3 linked regions of the Homo sapiens genome follow. The protein of the gene in region 1 purifies or fractionates together with the protein of each later gene. This does not show direct contact. Each region holds a gene or a part of one and is shown in the gene's direction. Other genes may lie near its edges.

The links.
Region 2: the proteins of SERPINB12 (region 1) and SULF2 purify together in Homo sapiens (co-immunoprecipitation; one large-scale study listed by IntAct). This does not show direct contact.
Region 3: the proteins of SERPINB12 (region 1) and ARMC9 purify together in Homo sapiens (co-immunoprecipitation; one large-scale study listed by IntAct). This does not show direct contact.

What each region holds. Positions count from the first base shown.
Region 1 is NC_000018.10:63,555,848-63,559,493, forward strand, and holds part of SERPINB12 (serpin B12), read left to right. Parts: intron 1-294; coding exon of another isoform or gene 295-312; coding exon 313-480; intron 481-2,504; coding exon 2,505-2,639; intron 2,640-3,646. UniProt on the Homo sapiens protein: Inhibits trypsin and plasmin, but not thrombin, coagulation factor Xa, or urokinase-type plasminogen activator. May play a role in cell differentiation.
Region 2 is NC_000020.11:47,782,536-47,786,697, reverse strand, and holds the start of SULF2 (extracellular sulfatase Sulf-2 isoform a precursor), read left to right. Parts: upstream 1-1,216; 5' UTR 1,217-1,355; intron 1,356-4,162. UniProt on the Homo sapiens protein: Exhibits arylsulfatase activity and highly specific endoglucosamine-6-sulfatase activity. It can remove sulfate from the C-6 position of glucosamine within specific subregions of intact heparin.
Region 3 is NC_000002.12:231,355,572-231,359,217, forward strand, and holds part of ARMC9 (lisH domain-containing protein ARMC9), read left to right. Parts: intron 1-226; coding exon 227-363; intron 364-3,646. UniProt on the Homo sapiens protein: Involved in ciliogenesis. It is required for appropriate acetylation and polyglutamylation of ciliary microtubules, and regulation of cilium length. Acts as a positive regulator of hedgehog (Hh)signaling.

The sequences.
Region 1 (3,646 bases):
CCCCCAGAACCATGGGAGAATAAACTCCTGCTATTTAAACCACTCAGTCTGTGGTAATTTCTTATGGCAGCCCCAGGAAACGAATTCACACTACTAAATGAAAATAGATCTCTGTCTATCAATATCAACACCAATATTTATATACAGGGATGATAATGACCTTAGTTTTCCAGTTCTTAATAGCATACTGAATAATTGTGCATGATTGTATTTCAGGTATGTAAAATAAAATTGTTTGTTCACTTATTTTCTTCCAATCACCATTTTCTCTTTCTCCTTTTTTTTTGGTTTTAGATCGTTATAAGTTTTACAATGGACTCTCTTGTTACAGCAAACACCAAATTTTGCTTTGATCTTTTTCAAGAGATAGGCAAAGATGATCGTCATAAAAACATATTTTTCTCTCCCCTGAGCCTCTCAGCTGCCCTTGGTATGGTACGCTTGGGTGCTAGAAGTGACAGTGCACATCAGATTGATGAGGTACGTGTCCACTAGGGTGCTACACAGGGTCCTAAACTCTGGGTCCACACTCAAAGTCAGACCCTAATCCCACTTAGGCAAGCCAAGGGGCTTATTGCACCCTGGGCTTGGTCAGAACCCATCCCTGTCTCTGAGTCTTTATTTGTATTTTCTCCATCTTACTTCCTCTTCGATCCTACCATTCTTAAAGTCTCACTTAAACTTGTACCTTCTTTAGGGTGCTCCTCAACTTCATGTCTGGCAGCTTTTCTCATTCATCTCTATCTTTATCTCTGTATGCATGTCTGTCACTCTTTTACTCTATGATTGCTAATACCAATATTGCTAGCGATTTTTAGTATGTGTATATGTCTTCTGTCTCACTCATTTCATTAAATAAATATTCATTAAGTACCATATATGGTTCCAGTGGCTAGAGAGCTTGGTGTCCTCCTGGACTCTTTCTCTCTCACTTTATACCACATTTGTTAGAAAATTCTGTTGGCTTTTCTTTTGAAAGATATCCATAATCCAGGCACTTCTCCCAGTCTCCTTGAGGTCTGAACCACAACCATCTTTTCTCACCTGGATACTGCAGCAACTTCCTGATGGGCTTTCCTGCTCTCACTGGCAATCTATCCTTTGCACAGCAGTCCAAGAGACCCTTTTAAAACCTGAGCCAGATTCTATTTCTCATCTGTTCAAAAACCTGGATTTCTTATTTCACTCATGATAGCAGTTCAAGTCCTTACAATGGCCCACAAGGATCTGGAGATCTGAATCCCAGATAAGCCCTGTGACTCCATCTCTCACTTTCATCCCTCCTCACTGTACCTGTCACATTGGCCTCCTGGCTTCCTTGGGTAAGTCATGCCCATCCTATCTTGGGGCCTTTGCTCTCGGTCCCTTTGCCTGATGGCTCTTTCCCCTGGTAACTGACCTCAGCTCACTTTCTTCTTCAAGACTTTGATCAGTGTTTATCTCCTATACGGGGCCTACTTTGACCTCCTAATCTAGTGCTGCATCCTGACCTCCAGACCATAAGGGATACTTTTGTAGGCACCTAATAAACATTTCTAGAATAAATAAATGAAGGTAATAAGAACAAATCCCCAAATAAACTACAAGTTCCCATGGTTGGCCTTATACTTCCTTGGATGTAGCACATAGTGCGGGGGTTATGCACAACTCAGGCTGTTTCCCCTGAATATGGAGCAGTAGAATTTATGGATTAAGACAGAATGTGTTTCTGGGGTCATTCTGCTTTATTCATCTACTAAGATTTGGTGTATTATTTTCTTATTCCATTAGCAAAACTTAGCTTTAGAGTGTGGTTTGCATCTTGCAGGGCAGAATTCAGATGTTCTTTCTTAGGCAGTTGAGGGCACCTGCTGACCAAATGGGTCTGAGTAGTGCAGGATATGACGCCTGTCTCCTACCTTTCTACCAGGCTCTGGATAACTTGTCTTTTGCTGTCCTCACTCCCTTGATTCATGTGAAACTCTAGATCAGCACTGTCTGACACAAACATAATGAGAACCACATAGTAATTTAAAATTTTTTAGTAACTGTATTGCAAAAGTAAAAAGAAACAGGTGGGACTAATTTTAATAATAATTTTTTAACCTAGTATATGCAAAATATCATATCCACATATCATCAATATAAGAATTTTAATGAGCTATTTTATTTATTTATTTTTTTATACTATATTCAAGATCTGGTGTGTATTTTGCACTTACAGTCAATTCAGATTGGGTATCTATGAAATGCTCCATAGTTACATTTAGCTTGTGGATACCTCTATGTTCTTTTAGTTTGGTTATATTTATTCATAAATGCTCTCCCAGGGTAGCGGTTGGTTCTTCTCCTCGATTCCACCTCCCAACCCAAGTACAGAAGCACCCACTTTCCTTTAAACTGTTGTTGATTGTTTTGTTTGACTATGTAATCATTGCCATTGTCTCATTATGAAATGTTTCTGAAGTTATTCAGGCTTCCCTCTGTTCATATTATCTGAAAGACCCCATCCCGTTATCATGCAGGTACTACACTTCAACGAATTTTCCCAGAATGAAAGCAAAGAACCTGACCCTTGTCTGAAAAGCAACAAACAAAAAGTGCTGGCTGACAGCTCTCTGGAGGGGCAGAAAAAAACGACAGAGCCTCTGGATCAGCAGGTGAACCGCCACCGTAGAAAACTCTTGCCTTTCTTTTTTACAAACTGCTTATTCTGGCTGTAGGATATTTGGTGATAGTTGCTTATCCCCAAATATTAGACTCTGGATACCATCAACAGCAATAACCTCATGTGATCTGTGATTCCTGAGTATGGATCTCAGATGTCCTTGGCTATCAGCTAGTTTCCTAAAGAGTAGGATCTGGTGTCTTCTGCTTATGATAAAGAAGCCTAGATCATCACTCTGTCCCTCATCTGCTTCTATAGGCCACAGGGCCCCAACACAGAGTATGGTCAAAGATAAAGGTGGTAAGGGGTAGGGTCAGCTGTGGAATTCTTACTGTCTCCCTCTATCTCTGCTTGTTCCATTTCGTGCTGAAATCTGCACTGACAGACAAAACTTTTATTGGTTGCCTCATGCCAGGAGGAGGAAAGATATTATCCAGGGTATGCATCCCCCTACTTTAGAAAGTTTAAGAGGAGGGTGGATAGATGATTGTCTTTCTTTCTTTCCTTCCTTCTTTCTTTCTTTCTTTCTTTCTTTCTTTCTTTCTTTCTTTCTTTCTTTCTTTCTCTCCTTCTTCTCTCCTTCTCTCCTTCTCTCTTTCTCTCTTTCTTTCTTTCTTTTTGTTTTTTCTGAGATGGAGTTTCGTTGTGTTGCCAGGCTGGAGTGCAGTGGCGCAATCTCAGCTCACTTCAACCTCCGCCTCCTGGGTTCAAGCAATTTTCCTGCCTCAGCCTCCAGAGTAGCTGGGATTACAGGCATGAGCCACCATGCCTGGCCTCTTTGAAATGTAAAGAAAATCAGAGTGTGTCAGTCTGAAATATAGTGAGCGTTGCTGAGTTCCCCAGATGTATTTTTCCTGGATGATCTTGATATAGATGTGGGAGCCATAATCTTCCACTGGGACCACTTCTCACCCTCCATTCCTCTGTTCTTCCCAGCTCACTTCCCCCAGCATGGTAACAGAGACAGCTGACATCTTACTAAGAAGCTCTATCTTGCTT
Region 2 (4,162 bases), on another chromosome or scaffold:
AAACCACGGTAGACAGCACCCCCTTGAGTCCAATTCCTCCCCTTTCGGAGGAAGCCGGTTTCTCCTTTCTATGCTACTCCCGGGCCATTTCTGGACAACAGCTGCTATTTTCACTTGAGCCGAAGTTAATTTCTCGGGGAGTTCTCGGGCGCGCACAGGCAGCTCGGTTTGCCCTGCGATTGAGCTGCGGGTCGCGGCCGGCGCCGGCCTCTCCAATGGCAAATGTGTGTGGCTGGAGGCGAGCGCGAGGCTTTCGGCAAAGGCAGTCGAGTGTTTGCAGACCGGGGCGAGTCCTGTGAAAGCAGATAAAAGAAAACATTTATTAACGTGTCATTACGAGGGGAGCGCCCGGCCGGGGCTGTCGCACTCCCCGCGGAACATTTGGCTCCCTCCAGCTCCGAGAGAGGAGAAGAAGAAAGCGGAAAAGAGGCAGATTCACGTCGTTTCCAGCCAAGTGGACCTGATCGATGGCCCTCCTGAATTTATCACGATATTTGATTTATTAGCGATGCCCCCTGGTTTGTGTGTTACGCACACACACGTGCACACAAGGCTCTGGCTCGCTTCCCTCCCTCGTTTCCAGCTCCTGGGCGAATCCCACATCTGTTTCAACTCTCCGCCGAGGGCGAGCAGGAGCGAGAGTGTGTCGAGTGAGTGTGCGTCTGTGTGTCCCGGCGAGGGTGCGCGCTCGGCGCCGGGAGCGCGGCCAGCCGAGTCCGGAGGCATCGGGAGGTCGAGAGCCGCCGGGACCCCAGCTCTGCGTTCACTGCCCCGTCCGGAGCTGGACTTCGGGGCCGGGGCCGGGGCCGTGCGCCGGGGACAGGCAGGGCCGGGTCGCGGGCCGCGCGTCCCCCAGGCCGGAGGTAAAAGCGCTAGCGCGCGGAGGGCTCGAGGAGGGCACCGCGGCTGGGCCCCCCGCGCCCCGGGCCCCAGCCGTCCGCGGCTCCCGGCCCGACGCTCCCCGCCCCGGAGCGCGCCCGCCTCCCCTGCGTGGAGGCCGGCGGGCAGGCGAGCGGGGGGCGGTAGCGCCGTGCCAAGGGGCTGGCTGGGGCAGCGTGGCCGGCCGGGCTGGGGCGATTTAAGAGCGGTCCGGGCGGGGTGCGGAGCCGGACTTTGGCTGGGGCGGCGCGCGGGGAGGGGGCCGGGGGCGGTGGCGGCGGCGTTGGGGGGCGGGGAGGAGGCAGGAGGAGGAGCAGCAGCGCTCGCCGGGGGATGCAGCAGCGGCAGCGGCGGCGGCGGCGGCGGCAGCGGCAGCGGCGGCGCGGAGTCCCCTGCGCCCAGCGGCCCGGCCGGGCTGCGGCAGAGGCGGCGGCGGCGCCCCGCTCCGGGTGAGGTTGCCGGGGCCGTGCGCGCTGGTGAGTGGGGCGTGGGGGGCAGGTGGGTGGCTGGGGGACGCGGGGCTCGGGCGGGGGCTCGCGGCGGCCGGAGCCTTCCCCGGCGTGAGCCCGGCCGCGAGCGCCGCCCAGGTGAGCCGGGGCTGGTCCGGACCGCCCGGCTCCAGCCCCAGCGCTGCTTGCGGAGGTGGGTCCGGGCGGGCGGGAGGGAGGCTCCGGCGCCGGCCGTCCGCAGAGGGATGACCTGTTTGACCCCGCTGGCTGGCGGGCGGGCGAGGACTTCCCGCCGCGCCCCTGACCCGCGGACACGGCACACCGAGCACAGGCGGCCCCGGGTAGGGGAGCGCGCCTGGGCCGGCCATCCGCAGGGGCATGGCCTTGTTGACCCTTAGGGTTTAGACCCAAGGGACCGGTAGATGCCAGCCCACGTGGGGCTTGTCCGGGCAGGACTCGGGGAAGCAGTGGGCCGGATCTTCAGAGTGGTTGGAAACTCGCAGACACCGAAAGGACAAACAGGATCGAAAAGGCAGACTTCCTCCCAGGCCAGGGCAGAACGAGTTTCCATCGCCTGGCGGAGGGATGCTCCCCTCCCCGGCTCCTCGGGGTTTCAGAAGTCTAGCGGTGAATTCTAGGAGTGCACTTTTCCAAACATTCCTTATAGTAGTTCGTTCATTCGTTCTACAAGCATTTCTGGAGCACCCCCTCGTGCCGGGCACCGCGTTCTGTTCCAGGGAAACGCGGCTGAACAGGATCTGGCTCCTGCGCGCCAGAAGCTGCCGGTTCACTGGGAGGGCAGCAGGGTAGAGAGATGCCGTCTCGGGGTGGAAGATGGAAAGGGAAGCCTGCAATCCTAGTTTGCACACTGGCCTCGGTCCGCAACTCCCCCACCTGCACGCAGTAGGCCCAGCACACAGTAGGAAGAGCAAGCCAGACCTGCCTGTGACGACCCTCTCCTCCTCCTCCTCCCCCTTGAAAGCTTTGATTCATTCCCTGCCCCCCTTTCTGGAAAGTCTTCCTGCAGCTTGTTTTAATCACTTTTTGAGTTAAAAGTCAATATTTAATTAACCAAGTAATTACATTCAGCTTACGTTTCAATCTGGGTATTTGCTCATCTGTGCGTGTTGGGACACCCGCCCTCTCGCCCCTCCATCTGTCCCCTGCCTGTTTCCCACCGGGTCCACCCCCACTTTTGGGGCAGAGAAGGGGAGGCTGCGCTGGAGCAGGTTCTCAGGGGGAGACAGGGAGCAGGAGAGACGGGCTTTCTCTGGAGGACACCCCCGGATCTGCGCGCTCTCCAAATTTCAGCTTGTAGTGAATAGTGAAGGTGATTTCTTGACAGCCTCTGCCTCCCATTACAGAACCACCAGAGGGTTCTAATTAAATTAGAGCCAATCGTTAAGTATAGGAACGGGGTAGGGAGGACAGAACGAAGGGGGCCCCTTCCCTGTAAGAGATGTTCTCCCCAGCTTCGTCTCTCCCACATCATAGAGAAGAGAAAACTCATCCAGACAGCCTGTCGGATGTGTAATTTAGCGTTCTAATAAGCAGCTTGAAAGGCGAAGGTGGTGGGCTTGGCAGATGGCATGTTGGACCTTTGTACATGAAGGCCTCTTCCTTCCCCAGCTAAATTTATATACATAAAGGCCGTGATGTTGGCATCACTGCTGCAGCTGAGGGTCAATGTGGGTTTGGGGTTTGGGCTTTGTGTGTACTTCTTGGGTTTTTTATTTGAATTTATGGCTTTTTCTGAAACCCTAATAACATGTTAAATTTTCAAACTTGAGAGTAGAGTGATGAGTTGACTGTAAAAGTCTGGTCTTGGAGGAGGACAGCATAGCAGTGTGTGTGCATGCACGTGCATGTCCCCCAGTTCAGCTGCTGTCCAAAGAACCCAGTTGATATGCAGTTTCACACCTGATTTGGACCTGATTTGGGAGATAACATTTCCTTCTCACTTTTTCTGGCACTGGTTAGTTTATCTGCTTGGACCTGCCTCAAGAGGGCAGCTGGGTTAACCAGGCAGAATATCACCCAACTCTGTCAAGCTTTGGCCATTATCTGACCTTAGACTTTAGTCCTGCAGAAGGAGTCCAGAAGCCCTGTCCTACAGAAAAATATCAGCATTTCTGACCAGCTTGTAGTTAAAAGAAAAGGTTTAGTCCAGACTTAAGATAATTGGTAACACTTAAGTAGTTTTGTATGGGCCTGATCTGAGGCATTGATCTAAGCCCTTATACCTTACTCATTAAATCCACACAAATACCCTGTTAAGTAAGTACTGCCATTGTTGCCATATTAAAGATGAGGAAACAGGCACAGAGAGGATTGTGACTTGCCTACAGCTGGTCACAGGTAGAGCTGGGATTCAAGAGGCCCTCAAGCTCCGGGGTCCACTTGGAACCACTGGACTCTCCTCCATGACCTTGGCCTTTGTCCCAGATGTAGAAGAAACACATATGCAGGGGAAGAAAACACCTTCAGACAGTCAAACTTTGCAAAGTAAAAGGCCCTTAACTTTCCATAAACCCCCACTGTTCCGACAGAGAGTCCGGGTTTGTATTTGAGGTTTTTTGCCCCAAGGAAAACATGTGTCTGCCTGGTGCTTTTTCTTCTGCTTATGAGCAGACACACTGTCCCCTCCCCCAGTCAAAATGCAAAGGGAAACATCAAATGCAGCTGATGGAAAAGCCAGGTGAACCATGGTGAAGATTTCAGCCCACTCAGAGCACAGTGGCCAGAGAGCAAAAGCTCTCCTAGAGGTGAGACCTTCCTGTGGTTGGTGATGGAGTCTCGATGGCCTGGCCCTGGGGGTGGTGCCAGGGTGCTCT
Region 3 (3,646 bases), on another chromosome or scaffold:
TGTGAATACAGAAGGGGGCTAACAGGAACAAGGGGAGGCTACTGCCTCACAGGGTCAGCCTCCTGGCTCCTGCCAAGACCCTTTAGAAGGTCTGATATGCTAATGATGGTTTAACAAGACTTTGAGGCACCGCCCCCTCCTGTATTTGTGATGCTGCAGTCGGCAGTCGGCAGTCCGAATCTCCTGGCTGGCTGTACTCACTGCCGTTTTTCATGTTTTTCTCCAGGGTGGAAGACCAACACACACCTCCCCAGACAGCCCAGCACGCCAGAAACGGCCACCCGCAGGCCCTGCCAGCCGCTCACGAGGCTGTCTACAGGGAGGGCAAGCCCAGCACCCCGGAGTCCTGCGTCTCCTCTTCATGTAAGAATGTGGGCAGCACACTGGGTCAGTTCTGGGATTGTGATGTCTAGAACCTACGCAAAACAGCAGCAGGAGTGGCAGACGCACGTCTGCTCCTGGGAAGCCCTCTGGTCTCAGCAACAGCCCCGTGTCACAGAGGCTCACGGGATTCCCAGCCCACAGCCAGACCCATGCTGGGCTGGTCCTCTGCGTCCCCTTCTCAGAGCACTGCCTGTTGTCCCGTCTGGGAGCTCCTGGGGCAAGATTTCTGACTGGTGAAAGCCGGCTTTAATGTGAAATTTCGGAGGAGGAATGCCGGGCTGATGTTGATCTGTGACCCTGATTCTGATAGCTCAGATTCTGGTGCAGAGAAGGCCAGCCGCCTGCTGGAAGGCTGGACGGAGGCAGAAATGTGCAACTAAGAGCACAAACAACTCTGGGATCCAAACGCCTTTGAAACTTCCAGCTGAGTTAACCAGAGGCTGATGGGAGATAAAAGTATTTTTTAGATGCCAGAAAAAATATATATACTTTGAATCAGAAATGTACAAAGTATTTTTTTTAATTTTTGAAAGGAAATTAAAAGGATTATGAGCAGTTCAGATAAGACTCTAATTTCCATTTGAGTAGGAAAAACAACAGAGGAACGGGTTGGATTCCTGTCTGAGAAACATCTGAGAACTTGCATCTGCTCACAATTGGATTCAGACGCTTCCAGGCCCAGGTGCAGAGCGGTAGCTAGTGACGAGTCAGCACTGGCTGGGTTATTTGCAACTCCTGGGTCTCTTGGTGATGAGCAGTTTCAGAGGTTTTGCCAGCGTTGATCATCAGTTATTTTACATGTGCTTTACTAAAGCTGTAAATATTAATATGCTCTCCAAAGGTGAGCAGCTTAGTAATTTATCCAGAGATTTCTGCTGCCAGGGTGGAGGTCTTAGGGGGCGTCTGAAAAGTTTTGCCAATTTGACTGAATGCCATTGAGTTAAAACATTTCAAGTTCTTAGGCCTGGACTTCCTGAAAGGCTCCACAGTACATTCAGGGTAACGTAGCGGTAACATCCTTGCTTTACCAAAATGACCACTGAGAGGCCCTTTATTTTTGCACTGATTGGACGTGCCTTTGGGAAGCTGTCATGCTGTTACCTGCAGGGCGGAGGCACTTGAGGTTGGCATGGATGGAAATGGCCAAGGAGCAGCTGCTGCAATGTTGATGTTATTGTTGTTTTCAAGAACAGTTTACTTTAGCCCTGACAAAGTCTGGGCCCAGGCACATTCCGGGTTCTTGCATGAACAGGGTGGGCACCCACCAGGACACTCAGCCTTGGTGGTCACGGGCGGTTGCCAGTGCTTCTTCCTAGGGAGGCAGCAGCTGCCCACCAGCCCCCAGATGGACCGGCTGGAGGCAGAGCAGTGCTTTTCCCAAATCCCGCTGTCAGTGCCCCCATTAACCTGCCCCAAATGCTGAGACCGTGTTCTGAGTGTCCCTTCCTTAAGCCTGCTCCTATTGGCTCAGCCTGGCTGGGACCCAGGACACGGACCCACGCAGCCCTGCCCTTCTCCACCTGCCAGAGACCAGGAATAGTCACTGCCCTCCCTGGCCCTGCCAGGCCCGCTCTGAGCCTCAGGCCAACACCCCTAGTCCTCCTTTTATTTTATTTTATTTTACTTTATTTTATTTTATTTTGAGACAAGGTCTCACTCTGTCCCCCAGGCTGGAGTGCAGTGGCCAGTCATAGCTCACTGCAGCCTCACATTCCTAAGCGATCCTCCCGCATCAGCTTCCTGAGTAGCTGGCACTACAGATGCACCACCATACCAGGCAAAGTGGTTTTCTATTTTTTGTAAAGACGAAGTTTGCTGTTGCCTAGGCTGGTCTTGAACTCCTAGTCTCAAGTAATCCTCCTGCCTGAGCCTCCCAAAGCACTGGGATTACAGGCGTGAGCCATCATGCCTGGCCCTCTTAGTCTCCTTTAAAATCCTTTTACTTGACAAAAAGTTCTTCCTTTGGAAAAACCAAGCCCCAGGTGCAGTTTCCTCTGGGTCATGAGTAAGCCTTTGCCACGCTTGGAGTAGATTCCATTCTGACCTTCTTTCAGACAGGCCTGCCCACGGCCTGTTGCGTCTCCCCAGTTGGCCTCCCTGCCCCTCTCCCTGTCCTGTCACCTGCCTCTGCCTAAGGGATGGATGGCAAACAGCCCTCTGCTTCTGTGCTCCATCTGGGCTTTGCAGATAGGGGGACTGCGGTTAAGTCCATTAAGCCAGGGTATGAATGAGGGGGAGGGGGATGAGCAGCAGGGACAGCAGGGAGTGGGCAGTGCTGGGCTGGGCATGGGCACCCCTGAGCCATGTTGCCTTCTGCTTCATTCCTTCCCTGCTCAGGAGCTTGCTCTGACTTCCTCCAGACAGTCCTGCTTCTCCATCCCTCCCCTCCACTTCAATTGATTGATTGATTGATTGATTGATTGATTGTAGAGAGAGGTGTCTCTCTGTGCTGCCCAGGCTGGTCTTGAACCCTTGGGCTCAAGCGATCCTCCCGCCTCGGCCTCCCAAAGTGCTGGGATTACAGGCATGGGGCCCCCTCCACTTCCCTTCTCTCACTCACCTTGCCCCAGGCCCATCCTGGCCCCAGGCAGCGCTCCCCACAGGTCTCCTTGCACACAGCTCGCTGCTGAGTCTGGCCTGTGCTGGGAACTAACGCCCCACCCAGAGACCCCGTGGAAACCCCCACCTTCACGCTGAGTTTCTTGAGGAAGAGCCTTTGCGCTTTGCGTTCAGTCAGCACCGCAGGGAAAACTCATGAGGAGGAACCTGTTGGACCCTCAAACTGCTTGATCGGTTGAGTGCAGGCCCAGAAAGTACATTCTAGGCAAAAGACAGCCCCAAATGCCAACAGGAAATAGTTCCCAAGGGAAAAGGCCAATAATATGGCTTAGCATTTTGCAGAACGTTGGCCTAAGGAAAGCTATTCTCATTTCCCCACCAACCAGGACTATCTTCAATATCAAAATCACATGCCTTGGGACTTCATAGCCCTGGGAGTTAAAATGCCCAGCCCTGTCTGAAATGGACCAGCAGGCAAGAGATACTACTGTCCCAGGAAGACCCCGGTGCACACCCATGGCTGCCCCATCTCCTAGCTCCTGGCTGTCTTAGTTAGGGGGGTCTCCTGTTTTTTTTTTTTTTTTTTTTTGAGATGGAGTCTCGCTCTCTCACCCAGGCTGGAGTGCAGTGGTGCGATCTTGGCTCACTGCAAACTCCGCCTCCCGGGGTTCAAGTGATTCCCCTGCCTCAGCCTCCTGAGTAG